Regions from separate parts of the Homo sapiens genome. Here region 2 is linked to region 1. A link means that fine-mapping ties the variant in region 1 to the expression of a gene that starts in the linked region. Tissue or cell type: skeletal muscle. Region 1 holds a variant in brackets; the other region holds the start of a gene. All regions are shown on one strand. Distances are from middle to middle.

Region 1 (8,108 bases):
ATAAGGCGCAGATCCTGAACTAACCTGTAAGGCTTGTCTGGTTTTAGGACAGGTGAAATGGGGGAATTGTAAGGAGGGTTTATAGGCTTTAAAAGGCCATGCTGTAACAGGCGAGTGATAACAGGCTTTAATTCTTTTAAAGCGTGCTATAGGGTGGGATATTGGCGATGTCGAGCGTGGTAAGGGTGATTAGGTTTTAATGGGATGGTAAGGGGTGCACGATTGGTTGCCAAGGAGGGAGTAGAGGTGTCCTATACTTGTGGATTAAGGTGGGGAGATACAAGGGGAGGATGTGAAGGAGGCTTTGAACTGGGGAAAAGGGCAGCAATGAGGTGTGGCTGTAGCCTAGGAATAGTCAGGGAAGCAGATAATTTAGTTAAAATGTCTCAGCCTAATAAGGGAACTGGGCAGGTGGGGATAACTAAAAAGGAGTGCATAAAAGAATACTGTCCAAGTTGGCACCAGAGTTGGGGAGTTTTAAGAGGTTTAGAAGCCTGGCCATCAATACACACAACAGTTATGGAGGCAAGGGAAACAGCCCCTGGAAAAGAAGGTAATTTGGAGTGGGTAGGTTCCATATTGATTAAGAAGGGGATGGACTTATCCTCCACTGTTAAGAGTTACCCAAAGCGTCTGTGATGGTCCAGGAGGATTCCGAAGCAATCAGGCAGAGTCAGTCTTCAGCCGCTAAGCCGAGAAGATCTGGGAAGGAGTCAGAGCCTTGGGCCAGTTGGACAGTCCAATTTCCAGTGGGATCCCACACAGATGGGACATGGCTTAGGAGGAATCCTGGGCTGCAGGCATCCCTTGGCCCAGTGGCCAGATTTCTGGCACTTGAAGCAAGATCCTGGGGGAGGAAGTCCTGAAGGAACACCTGACCGCTGTGGTTTAGGCATTTTGAAGTTCTTTTGTGCTGGAGATGTGGCTGGGGTTTCTCTCACAGCAGAGACAAGTAATTGCAACTCTTCTCTATTATTGCACATCTTGAAGTCGAGGTTAATTAAGTCCTGTTGTGGGGTTTGAGGGCCAGAATTTAATTTTTGGACCTTTATTTAATGTTGAGAGCAGATTGGGTAATAAAATGCATATTGAGAATAAGACGGCCTTCTGACCCTTCAGGGTCTAGGGCTGTAAAGTGTCTAAGGGTTGTTGCCAAACGGGCCATGAACTGGGCTGGATTTTCATATTTGATGAAAAAGAGCCTAAACGCTAACTGATTTGGGAGAGTTCGGATAAAGAAAAAGGAGTATTAACCTTGACTATGCCTTTAGCTCCAGCCACTTCTTTAAGAGGAAATTGTTGGGCAGGTGTCCTCACTCAAGTTCAAGTACATTAGAAACATTCTTATCCTGAGGCACAGGTTTTTAAAAATAGTTGCATAAAATTGTTGATATCGAAAAGTGTCTGTTTATATCCTTTGCCCACTTTTTGATGGTGTTGTTTGTTTTTTTTCTGGTAAATTTGCTTAAGTACCTTGTAAATTCTGGATAATAGACCTTTGTCAGATGGGTAGATTGCAAAAATTTTCTCCCATTCTGTAGGTTGCCTTTTCATTCTGATGATAGTTTCTTTTGCTGTGCAGAAGCTCTTTAATTAGATCCAATTTGTCAATTTTAGCTTTTGTTGCAATTGCTTTTGGCAATTTCTTCATAAAATCTTTGCCCATGCCTGTATCCTGAATGGTATTGCCTAGGTTTTTTTCTACGGTTTTTATGATTTGGGGTTTTATATTTAAGTCTTTAAGTCCATCTTGAGTTAATTTTTGTATGAGGTGTAAAGAAGGCATCCAGTTTAAGTTTTCTGCCTATGTCCAATTTTCCCAGCACCATTTATTAAAAATAGGGAGTCCTTTCCATATTGCTTGTTTTTGTCAGGTTTGTCAAAGATCAGATGGTTGCAGATGTGTGGCATTATTTCTGAGGCCTCTGTTCTGTTCCATTGGTCTATATATCTGTTTTGGTACCAGTACCATGCTGTTTTGGTTACTGTAGCCTTATAGTATAGTTTGAAGTCAGGTAGCATGATGCCTCCAGCTTTGTTCTTTTTGCTTAGAATTGTCTTGGCTATACAGCCTCTTTTTTGGTTCCATATGAATTTCAAAGTAGTTTTTTCTAATTCTGTGAAGAATGTCAATGGTAGTTTGATGGGAATAGCATTGAATCTATAAATTAATTTGGGCAGTATGGCCATTTCCATGATATTGATTCTTCCTATCCATGAGCATGGAATGTTTTTCATTTCTTTGTGTCCTCTCTTATTTCTTTGAGCAGTGGTTTATAGTTCTTTTTGAAGAGGTCCTTCACACCCCTTGTTAGCTGTATTCCTAGGTATTTTATTCTCTTTGTAACAATTGTGAATGGGAGGTCACTCATGATTTGGCTCTCTGCTTGCCTATTGTTGGTGTATAGGAATGCTTGTGATTTTTGGACGTTGATTTTGCCGAAGTTGCATGATGTCATCTGCAAACAGACAATTTGACTTCCTCTCTTCCTATTTGAGTACTCTTTATTTCTGTCTCTTGCCTGATTGCCCTGGCCAGCACTTCCAATACTATATTGAATAGAAGGGGTAAGAGAGGGCATCCTTGTCTTATGCTGCTTTTCAAAGGGAATGCTTCCAGCTTTTGCCCATTTTGTATGATATTGGCTGTGGTTTTGTCATAAATAGCTCTTATTATTTTAATATTGTGGGTTTGTCATAAATAGCTCTTATTATTTTGATTATTTCAATACCTAGTTTATTGAGAGTTCTTAACATGAAGAAATGTTGAATTTTACTGGAGGCCTTTTCTGTATCTATTGAGATGATTGTGTGGTTTTTGTCATTGGTCCTGTTTATGTGATGGATTATGTTTATTGATTTGTGTATGTTGAACCAGCCTTGCATCCCAGGGATGAACCCGAATTGATTGTGATGGATGTGCTTTTTAATGTGCTGCTAGATTTGGTTTGCCAGGATTTTATTGAGGATTTTCACATTGATGTTCATCAGGAATATTGTCCTGAAGTTTTCTTTTTTTGTTGTGTGTCTGCCAGGTTTTGGTATCAGGATGATACTGGCCTCATAAAATGAATTAGGGAGGAATCCCCCCTTTTCAGTTGTTTGGAATAGTTTCAGAAGAAATGGTACCAGCTCCCCTTTGTACCTCTGGTAGAAGTCGGCTGTGACTCCGTCTGGTCATGGGCTTTTTTTTGGTTCGTAGGCTATTTATTACTGCCTCAATTTCAGAACTCGTTATTGTTCTACTCAGAGATTTGAATGGCAATTATTAAAAACTCAAAAAACAACAGATACTGGCAAGACTGTGGAGAAATAGAAACACTTTTACACTGTTGGTGGGAATGTGAATTGGTTCAACCATTGTGGAAGACAGTGTGGCAATTCTGCAAGGATCTAGAACCAGAAATGCCATTTAATCCAGCAATCCCATTACTGGGCATATACCCAAAGGAATATAAATAATTCTATTATAAATATACATGCACACATATGTTTATTGCAGCACTATTTACAATAGAAAAGACATGGAACCAACCCAAATGCCCACCAATGATAGACTGCATAAAGAAAATGTGATACATATACACCATGGACTACTATGAAGCCATAAAAAGGAATGAGATCGTTTCCTTTGCAGGGACATGGATGAAGCTGGAAGCCATTATCCTCAGCCAAGTTACACAGGAACAGAAAACCAAACACCTGATGTTCTCACTCATAAGTGTGAGTTGAACAATGGGAACACATGGACACAGGGAGGGGAACAACACACACTGGGGCCTATTGGGAGGGGAGCAAGAGGAGGGAGAGCATCAGGGCAAATAGCTAACGCATGTGGGGCTTGAAACCTAGGTGATGGGTTGATAGGTGCAGCAAACCATCATGGCACACGTATAACTATGTAACAAACCTGCACATTCTGCACATGTATCCTGGAACTTAAAGTAAAATAATAATAAAAAAAGAAAAAATGTTCATATTGAATCTTTCCAATGTGGCACACAGTGTGCTACTCACAAATTTCCACTCCCCAACTTGTGTGTGGAAAGCTGTGTCCAAGAAAACAGGTGAAGACTTACATTTGCCAGTTCTCTTGGTATTCCCATTTTATGGCTTTTGTGGGAATGCAGTTCATGCTTGTCTGCTATTTTATTTAATTTGCCTCCTTGTAAATTCCAGCTGTTGACCATGTAATTAATCCCTGTATGGAAAAAATATTGGCGTTTATTTCTGCAATACATACGCTTCATCCCAATAGGAGAATATATTCATCATAGTCCTTTTCATTATTCTACAGTTGTTCCTCGAAACCATTTTACATACCACACAATTAATATACACTGGGACTCTGCTCCCAACTTCTGCATTAGAACTATGGCTTTCATTTGTTCTTCTTCATTTTTAATTTCTGAACTCTAGGGTTTTAAGTAAAGAGAATCTTTTGTATTACTCCTAGAAAAGACTACTACTTAACTTATCAACTTATTGTAGAATGTGGTAACTAGAATGAGTACGGTGGATAGATCTTAGTAACATAACTGTAGCTGATACCAGAGACAGTCTTTGACATTTATCTTTGGCCACAATTTTCTCTTACTAGGTCCTTTTTTTTCTTTTTTTTTTTT[T/C]TTTTTTTTGCTTTCTATGCTACCTTTTGCCTCTTTTCAGTTGTTCAGTCTTTGTAGTCTCTTCTTTCTACAGATGTCTTAAAACTTGTTTTTCTCTATTACACAAAAGTAAAAATGGCTGATAATTTTAAGTACCATCCTCACTGGGCTATTTGCCTTTTGATTGGGACCAAGGCTTTATGATAACAAGAAAGTTCATCTGCTTTTGTTCAGAAGGTGACTGGACAAAGCTCTAGAAAGCCAACCTGTTCCTGGCATGTCATCTTATACTTAGTTCTTATACTATACATATACAAGGCCATCTTGGTTCACTATGACATGATTTCTGGGATAAAGATAACACCTACATTGTTGGTTTTGACTTGATGACAAAGTAAACCCTTAGACATTCTCAAAAGTTTAAGTTTGGTTAAAGAAATTGATGAAAGATCATCAGCTTGTAACAATGTCTGAAAATCATTTTTATTTAAGCCCAGAGAAGAAAAAGCTAATTTTAAAAAAATTATTACTATCTGGAAATTTACCCTGATCGGAAAATATATGTACTAATGAAGAACAGCTGTGTTGTGGGCAAAATTATGAAAGCAAATTGCATGGTTGACTGGTTATTTCTTTTTAAGACAGAAATCAAGAAGACATATTGCTGACCCAAATGTGGATGGACTTTAATATGTATTTGTTATATATAAAGTTAAAGCCTGCTTTATAAAAGGTTACAGTTATTTATCAACTTACATCTATTGTCAAATAGAAAAGAATTTGGAGTGAATATAAATGCTTAATTTGAAGAAAAAGTAGAAAATTGTAGGAAGAAATCCTCCTGAGTGCAAAATTTTAAGGAGAAAGATGTTGTTGAAAATGTCTAAAGGATTTTCTAATTTGTCATTTTCTCTAAGATATTTTAAGGTCCACAGACTGTTAGCCATACCACAAACACATAAAAGGGAGCCAGAATCAGGGTAAAAATAAATGAATTTCTTCAACTAATATTATTTGATAATTTACCCTAATTTAAGTTGTAGGTGGTGTAAAAGTAAACTAATGTGGAATGTGTTCTAAAGGATTCTGCTTGGGTAGGGAAGAAAATATGAATATAAATGATTTAATAAAAGATAATGAATCTATTAATTATATTCACTTTAGTGTATATCTTATGGATAAAATAGTTTTATTATCATCATCAAAAGATCGAACCCTTTATTAGTGTGGTTTTAGAGAACTAGTCAGAAATATACACATAAATCTCAATATGTGTTAAAGACTATTCTTCTGACACTGTTACAGCATCTTTGTTTTTGTGTTATGAACTGTTTTACTTTTTCAGATTGAAATAGAACTAAAATTTTTAAAAACCTTTTCTTTCAAAAATATGACTGTAAAATTTAAATTATAATAATACATTTTATATTCTGAAAACAAGTTAGTGCAGATTTAGAAATTGGACATCTAGAAGGCAGCTTTATTACAAAATCTATCCCAAAGTTCATGTCATCTTTACAGAAACCTATCAATATCCTCACTGCAGTGAATGCGTGACCATGGGACAGAAGGCAGGCTTAAGCAAGGCATTTGGTGTACGGGGTTTTGCAAGGTTTATTCAACTAAGATGTGTTTGCATGTTTTTGTGATATGGTTTGGCTGTGTCCCCACCCAAATCTTATCTTGAATTGTTGCTCTCATAATTCTCACATGTGTGGAAAGGACCCGGGGGGAGATAATTGAATCACGGGGGTGATTTCTCCTGTACTATTCTTGTGGTAGTACGTCTCAAGACATCTGATGGCTTTATAAGGAGAAATCCCTTTTGCATAGCTCTCGTTCTCTCTGTTCCCTGCTTTTTGCCTTCCACCATGATTGTGAGGCATGTAAGACATGCCTTTTGCCTTCCACCATGATTGTGAGGCCACTCCAGCCATGTGGAACTGTGAGTTTATTAAATCTCTTTTTCTTTATAAATTACTCAGTTTCATGTATGTCTATATCAGCAGCATGAAAACAGACTAATACAGTAAATTGGTACCAGTAGAGTGGGGATGCTGCTGTAAAGATACCCAATAATGTTGAAGCAGCTTTGGAACTGGATAACAGGCAGAGGTTGGAACACTTTGGAGGGCTCAGAAGAATACAGAAACATGTGGGAAAGTTTGGAGACTTGTTGAATGGCTTTGACCAAAATGCTGATAATGATATGGACAATGAAATCCAGGCTGAGGTGGTCTCAGATGGAGATGAGGACCTTGTTGGGAACTGGAATAAAGGTGAGTCTTGCTGTGTTTTAGCAAAGAGACTGATGGCATTTTGCCCCTGCTCTAGAGATTTGTGGAACTTTGAACTTGAGAGAGATGATTTAGTGTATCTGGTAGAAGATTCTGTTCTCATGGTAGTGGATAACTCTCACAAGATCTGATGGTTTCGTAAGAGGGTTCCCCTTTCACTTGGCTCTCATTCTTTCTGTTCCCTGCCACCATGTAAATATGCCTTTTGCCTTCTGCCATGATTATGAGGCCTCCCCAGCCACGTGGAATTGTGAATTCATGAAACCTCTTTTTCTTTATAAATTACCTAGTCTCATGTATGTCTTTATCAGCAGCACGAAAACAGACTAATACAGTATGCAAACTATTTAAGTATGTCTCCTGCACACTGCTGCCTATTGAATTTGAACGTAAATTCAATATTGAATTTATATATTCAATAAATATAAGAAGATATATTTATTATTTATATTTATGTCTCTCTTCTCAAATCTCAGAGAGAATTACAGCCCCATAGCCCCATAATCATGGTTTCTACAAACAAACAGTAGAAATGGAATCCATTCTCCAGGCTTACTCTTACTCCCACACACACAATATTTCTTATTTTACAGCATCTGGGTTAAGAGTTACTTAAATAGGAGTTTATTTACTTTTTTGTTTGTTTATTTGCTTTAGAGACAGGTTCTTGCTTTGTTGTCCATGCTGAAGTGCAGTGGTGCAATCACGGTTCACTGTAACCTCAAACTGCTGGGCTCAGTGATCCTCCTGCCTCAGCCTCCTGAGACTAAAGATGTGTACCACCAGGCCAGGATAATATTTTTTTAATTCTTTAGAAGAGACAGGGTCTTACCATGTTGCCCAGGCTGGTCTTGAACTCCTGGTCTCAACTGATCCTCCCACCTTAGCCACCCAAAGTGCTGTGATTACAGGTAGGGTTTTTTTTACTTTTATGTAAATCTGAAAAAAGCAACCTTCCCTTTTTAAAAAGAAAAAAAGTATTTTCTTTACTGCAAATTAATAATTCTGGTCATGGGAAGTGTCTACCTTACTCTGGACCTTCACTTTTATAGTGATTTAGTTGAATCTTCTGTTGACCCACAAGCACTAGCTCCAGGACTAATGCTCCTGAGAATTGGGCAGAAGGAAGACATGAGCACCCAGATGACCTCTAGAGCAACATCATTTGCTCACTTTCCCTACAGCAGCCATTGCTTCCTTTGCCTGT
Region 2 (8,108 bases), 240 kb before region 1:
ACTCCTATTCAACATAGTGTTGGAAATTCTGGCCAGGGCAATCAGGCAGGAGAAAGAAATAAAAGGTATTCAATTAGGAAAAGAGGAAGTCAAATTGTCCCTGTTTGCAGATGACATGATTGTATATTTAGAGAACCCCAGCATCTCAGCCCAAAATCTCCTTAAGCTGATAAGCAACTTCAGCAGTCTCAGGACAGAAAATCAATGTGCAAAAATCACAAGCATTCCTTTACACCAAAAACAGACAAACAGAGAGCCAAATCATGAGTGATCTCCCATTCACAATTGCTACAAAGAGAATAAAATACCTAGGAATCCAACTTACAAGGGATGTGAAGGACCTCTTCAAGGAGAACTACAAACCACTGCTCAACGAAATAAAAAGAGGACACAAACAAATGGAAGAACATTCCATGCCCATGGATAGGAAGAATCAATATCATGAAAATGGCCATACTGCCCAAGGTAACTTATAGATTCAATGCCATCCCCATCAAGCTACCAATGACTTTCTTCACAGAATTGGAAAAAACTACTTTAAAGTTCATACGGAACCAAAAAAGAGCCTGCATTGCCAAGACAATCCTAAGCAAAAAGAGCAAAGCTGGAGGCATCACGATACCTGACTTCAAACTATACTACAGGGCTACAGCAACCAAAACAGCATGGTACTAGTACCAAAACAGAGATATAGACCAACGGAGCAGAACAGAGCCCTCAGAAATAATACCACACATCTACAGCCATCTGATCTTTGACAAACCTGACAAAAACAAGAAATGGGGAAACGATTCCCTATTTAATAAATGGTGCTGGGAAAACTGGCTAGCCATATGTAGAAAGCTGAAACTGGATACCTTCCTTACACCTTATACAAAATTTAATTCAAGATGGATTAAAGACTTAAATGTTAGACCTAAAACCATTAGAACCATAGAAGAAAATCTAGGCAATACCATTCAGGACATAGGCATGGGCAAGGACTTCATGTCTAAAACACCAAAAGCAATGGCAACAAAAGCCAAAATTGACAAATGGGATCTAATTAAACTAAAGAGCTTCTGTACAGCAAAAGAAACTGCCATCAGAGTGAACAGGCAACCTATAGAATGGGAGAAAATTTTTACAATCTACCCATCTGACAAATGGCTAATATCTAGAATCTACAAAGAACTTAAAGAAATTTACAAGAAAAAAATCAAACAACCCCATCAAAAAGTGGGCAAAGGATATGAACAGACACTTCTCCAAAGAAGACATTTATGTAGCCAACAGACACATGAAAAAATGCTCATCATCACTGGCCATCAGAGAAATGCAAATCAAAACCACAATGAGATACCATCTCACACCAGTTAGAATGGCGATCATTAAAAAGTCAGGAAACAATAGGTGCGGGAGAGGATGTGGAGAAATAGGAACACTTTGACACTGTTGGTGGGAGTGTAAATTAGTTCAACCATTGTGGAAGACGGTGTGGTGATTCCTCAAGGATCTAGAACTAGAAATACCATTTGACCCAGCCATCCCATTACCGGGTATATACCCAAAGGATTCTAAATCATGCCTCTATAAAGACACACACACATGTATGTTTATTGCGGCACTTTTCTCAATAGCAAAGACTTGGAGCCAACCCAAATGTCCATCAATGATAGACTTGATTAAGAAAATGAGGCACATATGCACCATGGAATACCATGCAGCCATAAAAAAGGATGAGTTCATGTCCTTTGTAGGGACATGGATGAAGCTGGAAACCATCATTCTGAGCAAACTATCACAAGGACAGAAAACCAAACACCACATGTTCTCACTCATAGGTGGGAACTGAAAAATGAGAATACTTGGACACAGGGTGGGGAACATCACACACCAGGGCCTGTCGTGGGGTGGGGGGAGTGGGGAGGGATAGCATTAGGAGGAATACCTAATGTAAATGATGAGTTAATGGGTGCAGCACACTAACATGGCACATGTATACATACATAACAAACCTGCACTTTGTGCACATGTACTCTAGAACTTAAAGTATAATAATAAAAAATAATAATAAATAAGAAAAAGTATACATTTGCCACTTTATCAGACCACAAGTTGAACTGAAAAGAACTAGGAACAGTGATAGCCTTGAAGGGCTAGCCCATTTTCCATATACTGCCTAACTCACTTTGGTTTGATATACAAATATTATATCATAAAGGTTATTTGAAAAGTTCTATACCTTAGAGATCACCAGGGTATAAATATATTTTTCCATATTGTTCTGTGAGTTTAAAAACTTTATACAAGGTATTGGTATGTATCTATTAATCTAAAATACTTAAATATTTTCATTATGGTCCTTGCAATGGATCTTCCTCTTTCCGCACCTTCCTTCCCCATTGAAGAAGACTCTGCATAAACCATTTAGATTACACCAAATAAGTATCATTTTTCATATTTCACTTCTATTTCATTAAGCAACCCATCTTCCTAGCTTCTTTACTAATTAGCCACTAAACCCCAGGCTTTTCTTTACAGTTCAGTGAAAATACGTGTAGCCTAAGATGTCCTAACTCCAAGGCAGGGGGAGGAGGAAGGGTAGAACTTAGTCAAAAAAAGAAAAGGATGCATGGAAGGATAAGAAGAAGAAACAGAAAGGCTCCTAGAGTCTGCCAAGAGCCCACGTTCTGGCTCACAGGTGGGAGCGCAACCTTGCTAGGCAAGTCCTAGCTTGCAGACAGTATAAAATAAGAGCAGACATGAAGAAAGGAATTCAGGTACCTTCCTTTAAACATATCTCTTCTGCAAATGTAGTCATCCCTGATAAAGTACAATTAGAGGTAGGTAGACGTGTCACAATGAAGTCAGATAACTTTCCTATTCACCATTTTGTCAGAGCTGATAAAATTTAGAAGTGACCAAGTTCTCTGTGTGTTCTTGCACTCACTGAAGGAACCAATAGCAGTAAAACTGTCCCTGTCTCAAAATGGTAGGAAGCAGAGATTTCATAAAAGTTTTCTGAAACTACGTGCCTGAAGGGAGGAGACAGTTGTTAAACCAGCATAGAATCATAAAACTATTTTGTACTCTTAACATGCACACTTCACTCACCCAAAATATTAGTTACGAATTATCCTAAAGAAAAAAAAAAGGGTATGAAAGCAGGTGGGCTGCCATTCTGTATAGGCAGACCACACCCCATACTCTACCTGCGCCCACCACTAGGGCTCTGGGCCCACAGGCGCGGATGCAATTCAGGAGGGAGTTGGAGCGAATGTTGGTGTTGAGAAAGGCCACCACGCAGCCCAGCTTGGCGAGGCCGAACCACACGTGAACGAAGTCCGGCTCATTGCTCATCAGCAGAGCCACCGTGTCCCCCTTTTTCAGAGAGGAATGGTTCAGGAAGACATGGGCCACTCTGCTGCTCCTTTTGTCTACATCCTGATAGGTGTAGATGTCTCCCTCATAGATGATGAAAGGTTTCCGAGGTTGTCTTTTGGCATGACTCAAGAATTTATCCAGCACAGTCACCAGCTCCCCTCTCTTTTCATACTTCTTCAGCCGAATTATAATGAGCACCACCTTCAACACGAACCAGAAGTCATCCCAAAAGTAAGGGAACAGGAGTTTCTGCAAGAAGTGCAGGACGACCATTCCAGCCCCTAGAACTGTTAGCCATGACAGAAGCATGGGGGCAACTGGGCCAGAAGACAGCTCTGATCTCAGCCCCCACCAGCGTCCTTCTCTTCCAGGCACAGCTCTCCACGGAGACCGCAGATCCTCACTACTCAGGGCTTACACCTGAAGTTCTTGTCAGCTTTTCCGGGGCGAAGCGGGATGGGGAGGAATCCTGAGAAACAGAATCGTAGGTTTGCACCGAAAAGGTCGCCCCAAGTGGTGCTGAAGATTAAGCTTGGGTCACTGGGCGGCTGGAAAGCAGGGAGCCTCCGACTCCTGCGAGAAACCAACACAGCCACCCTCAGGGGTCTTGGAATCTACAACCCCAGCGCTGCGCCCTCGCCTCCCAACCGCGACAGCGGCCCGTGCCCTGCGAGTTCCCCAGGACTTTCCAGACCTCTTCTCTGTGAGGGCTGAGTCAGTCCTCCCTGCTTCTGCGACCCTAAACAAACCTCACCACCCTCAGAAGAAGGTCCAGGGACAGAAGCTTTTCTCCTCTCAGGTAGTCTTTCCCGCGAGCTTGAGTTGGAGGCTGAATTCGAGCCGGGAAAAGCTGGGATGATGATGACTGAGAAGCGCAGCGATTTACAGTCTCTACGCACCAGAAACCGCGCAGGGGCTCAGCACCACGTCTCGGTCCGTGGCCTCAGGGCCAGCGGGTTCCAGGGTTCCTGAGCGCCGCCCCCGTCCTGCCCCGCCCAGCCCCGCCCAGTCCCTCTGACGCAACGGGTCCCGGAGAACTGCTCCTTGGTGACCCACGCGCCCGCTGGAAAGGGGTGCCCCTACCCCAGCCGCAGCTCGCACTCCGAGTGTCGTTAGGCTAGCCTAGTGTATTCTCCTCCGAAACATGGTGGGAGTGTTGCCTGCCCACCTTCGGCCTCCAGGCTCAGGGCTAACCACATCCCCTGGCGTGCCGCAGCCGGAACAGCCTGGGCCCCGCCGCCAGCTCCTCCCTGGGCGCGCGTCCGGCCACCTAGAGAAGTGTGGCGCGCCGACCTGCTCACACCCCAGGGAGGAGGCCCCGCGACTGGCGTCTCCGGCGGGGAAGAATGTGACAGTCCCGTGGGGGGAAACCCAGGGATCTGGAAGGCTTGGGGTCACAGGAGAACCAGAGTTGCTGGGATTGGGCGGCGCGGGGGCCCTGGCGAGGCTGATAAGGTATAACAGTGTCGCACAAAGGTCATCCATTGAACCAATTAATAACTAGAAAATGGAAAGAAAAGAACAAACATCAAAAAAACTGCAGGGAGAGAGAGGCAGGGAGGGAGGAAGAGAGGGCAGGAATATTTATGAACTGGACAGATCCAATAATATTTTGTAAGAAAGAAAGGAATATTTGGACACCACAAAATTGTACTGTTCTTTACAAAAAGTATTTTTGAAAACATGTTGATAGGTTGGTTTTTACATTTATATTAGAACTCTATCGTTAGAGAGCTAAGACAGTGCGTTTTACAAAATTTGGCAACAATATTGATTGATTTGAGAGCTTCAGTCGATATTCGTATTTAAAAATAAAAACAAAGTTTATAATGCTATTTGCAGTCCTTAAAAGTAACAAGATCCCCCCTCCCTGAGACAGATCATTTAAAGAATTATGTCTTCAAACTAAGGATTCTAAAGGGAGTGGGGAGGTGGAGTGGAGAAGTAACAAGTTAGTGGAATGGTTAATAAAATTTTATACGAAGATGAAATTTTACTAAAGATCAAAAAACTAAAGAACATTTCATTACACTTTTTTTTTTTAGCAGACACCATCATCCCAGCTGTCTGCTTTTAAGTGAGTATAAATGGTTAATTGCTTGTGTTAAAATAGTTAAGGAAGGCCTCACCTTGTTAGGTGTTTCTCCCTTCTGCCTCATGTTCTGCAGATGGATTCTGGCTAACCTCAGATTCTGTAATAAAAGAAAAACTGATAATTCCAAAGACGAGCTCCAGTTTATTAATCTGAAAATGATTACTTTGAAGTCACAGTGAAGAGCTCTTAAAGCCAAAGGAACATAGGCTCTTAAAGCCCTTTTCTGTAAATGACAAAAAAATGCTTTCTAAATTTACTCAGAAGCTTTGATCTTTTCGATTCAGAAATATCTTTTTAATTAAGAAAATAGTATCAAGTAGTTTATAACTTAAAACATTAGTTTACAACTTGAAAAGCATCTTTGACATTCTATTGTTTTCTCTTCTAGCTTTAGTCTAATTAAGTCACCTCCAAATAACAACATTTAACGAACACAAAAGAATATGGAGCAGTTGGTCTCAGACTTTTGTAGTTTTAATGAGTAAAATCTGTCCTTCTCCAGTGGAAAAAATAATACAGAAAGATAGGCGTGGCATTTCTTTTATTTTGCTGCACTTATTTTTCTTATCATGGACATTCTAATACCATCCTAAGGCATGGAACTAAATTTTTAGCAACTACAGATACAATGAATCTAGAATATATTCAGCACCATAAATGTGAGCTTGTTTGACTTATTAGGAAGAACTACAAGTAAGCATATGTTGGGCCAGACTTTGTACTAACCCAAACCAATTTTATGCCTGAAATCTCACCATGGAAGACATAATCAATGAAAAATCTTGGGACAGTTAACAGTATTGTGTATATTCCTATATTAGCCCATGTACCTGTTTCTATTTTGTCCAGAAATTTTGCATTCACTTTCAAATGCTACCAAAGGCAGCTAAGTAAAATAGATACAATTTTTAGCTACAATAGTTTAAGAATTTTGAAATGGGAGAAATATAGCAAGAGTTAGTTGCAAGTGAGTAAATCTATCATTTAACTAAAATAAAGAGAAATAAACACATAGAAATAGTCTAGACATTCCTGCTAACATTACTTTTGACTAGGAATAGTGTAATATTTCTCTGCTTCTCCTTTAAAAAACATAAAGACTGTTTGTTTTTCTTTAATGTTATTTGAAAATAAAAATATTGTGACTAAATGAAAATCAATGCCCCAAAAAAGTTTATTTTTAATCTACATGTGGTCTCTTCAACCTCTTCTTCATTTCTGATTTGACTTTCCTCTTTAACCCACTACCAACCACCTTTGCACCCTCAGTTCTATAGAGGATGAATTGTTTAGTGAGTAGATCAAAGTAAGACTGAACAAATAGCAATATATGACAGACATGGAGCCTACAGGATTTTGCCACTGTAACCTAAGAATTCTGACTCTTTGCTGTCAAATCACTTGTCTTCATAAGTCTTCTGATGGAATTCTATAGCAGTCATCATTTGGATTATGGGAGGTTTGAGTGAAAACCAAGAAATTTAGAAAGATGCCAAACAATGCTGGGTTGGTGGCTAAACATCATGATGAGTGCTTGCAATGGGCCAAGAAGCTCTGACTATCTAGACGGCAGCCGGGGCTTGGGAAAGGGAATGGCAGTGAAGTGACTGAGGGAGTTGGATGGCTCTAAAAATGAATGGGAGAATGCTGGATGCAGGAGTCATCCACTTTACAATTCTACCTGGGAACAGGGTTTTTAATTATTGCTTTTAGGATCTGATAATAACTTCGGTTATCATGGGAAGCTTACTCTTCCTATAATCTAATGTTTATTTGTATTAATGAATAATCATTGCCCAGAATAGTATTCGACACAAGGACTCATGAAGCAAACCGAACATTAAAAATAAGAGGCGTGCACGGAGCCTCGCTTACTGATAACACAGCAGTCTGAGATCCAACTGCAAGGCAGCAGCGAGGCTGGGGGAGGGGCATCCTCCATTGCTGAGGCTTGAATAGGTAAACAAAGTGGCCAGGAAGCTCAAACTAGATGGAGCCCACCTCAGTTCAACCAGGCCTGCCTGCCTCTGTAGACTCCACCCCTGGGGGCAGGGCATAGCTGAACAAAAGGCAGCAGACACTTCTGCAGACTTAAATGTCCCCTTCTGACAGCTTTGAAGAGAGTAGTGGTTCTACCAGCACAGAGTTTGAGATCTGAGAATGGACAGACTGCCTCCTCAAATGGGTCCCTGACCCCGAGTAGCCTAACTGGGAGGCAACTCCCAGTAGGGGCCGACTGACACCTCATCCAGCCGGGTGCACCTCTGAGATGAAGTTTCCAGGGAAGGATCAGGCAGCAACAATGGCCATTCTGCAATATTTTCTGTTCAGCAGCCTCTGCTGGTGATACTCAGGCAAACAGGGTCTGGAGTGGACCTCCAGCAAACTCCAACAGACCTGCAGCTGAGGGTCCTGACTGTTAGAAGGAATACTAACAAACGGAAAGGACATCCACACCAAAACCCCATCTGTACATCACCATCATCAAAGACCGAAGGTAGATAAAACCACAAAGATGGGGGGAACCAGAGCAGAAAAGCTGAAAATTCTAAAAATCAGAGCGCCTCTTCTCCTCCAAAGGAACGCAGCTACTCACCAGCAATGGAACAAAGCTGGACGGGGAATGACTTTGACGAGTTGAGAGAAG

Alleles and levels. Alleles are on the strand shown, and positions count from the first base shown. SD is a standard deviation of normalised expression in the study named.
As copies of C replace T in region 1, the expression in skeletal muscle of the gene that starts at base 4,325 in region 2 goes up (large effect, 1.1 SD a copy in FUSION).

What was found. PIP is the estimated chance that this variant, and not a neighbour inherited with it, causes the effect.
Region 2: it holds the start of SLC27A6, and the variant in region 1 is fine-mapped to the expression of SLC27A6 in skeletal muscle (FUSION, PIP 0.95).

What each region holds. Positions count from the first base shown.
Region 1 is chr5:128,724,547-128,732,654 of GRCh38, reverse strand. LOC105379168 (a long non-coding RNA gene) reads right to left here. Exons shown (of 7, transcript XR_001742460.1): 4 at 4,080-4,201. Among named protein-coding and RNA genes, the nearest start is that of FBN2, 190 kb to the right of the region's middle. The variant T/C (reference allele first, on the strand shown) is at 4,626.
Region 2 is chr5:128,961,705-128,969,812 of GRCh38, reverse strand. It overlaps SLC27A6 (solute carrier family 27 member 6), which reads right to left and starts at 4,325. Exons shown (of 10, transcript NM_001017372.3): 1 at 3,195-4,325. The coding sequence starts at 3,675.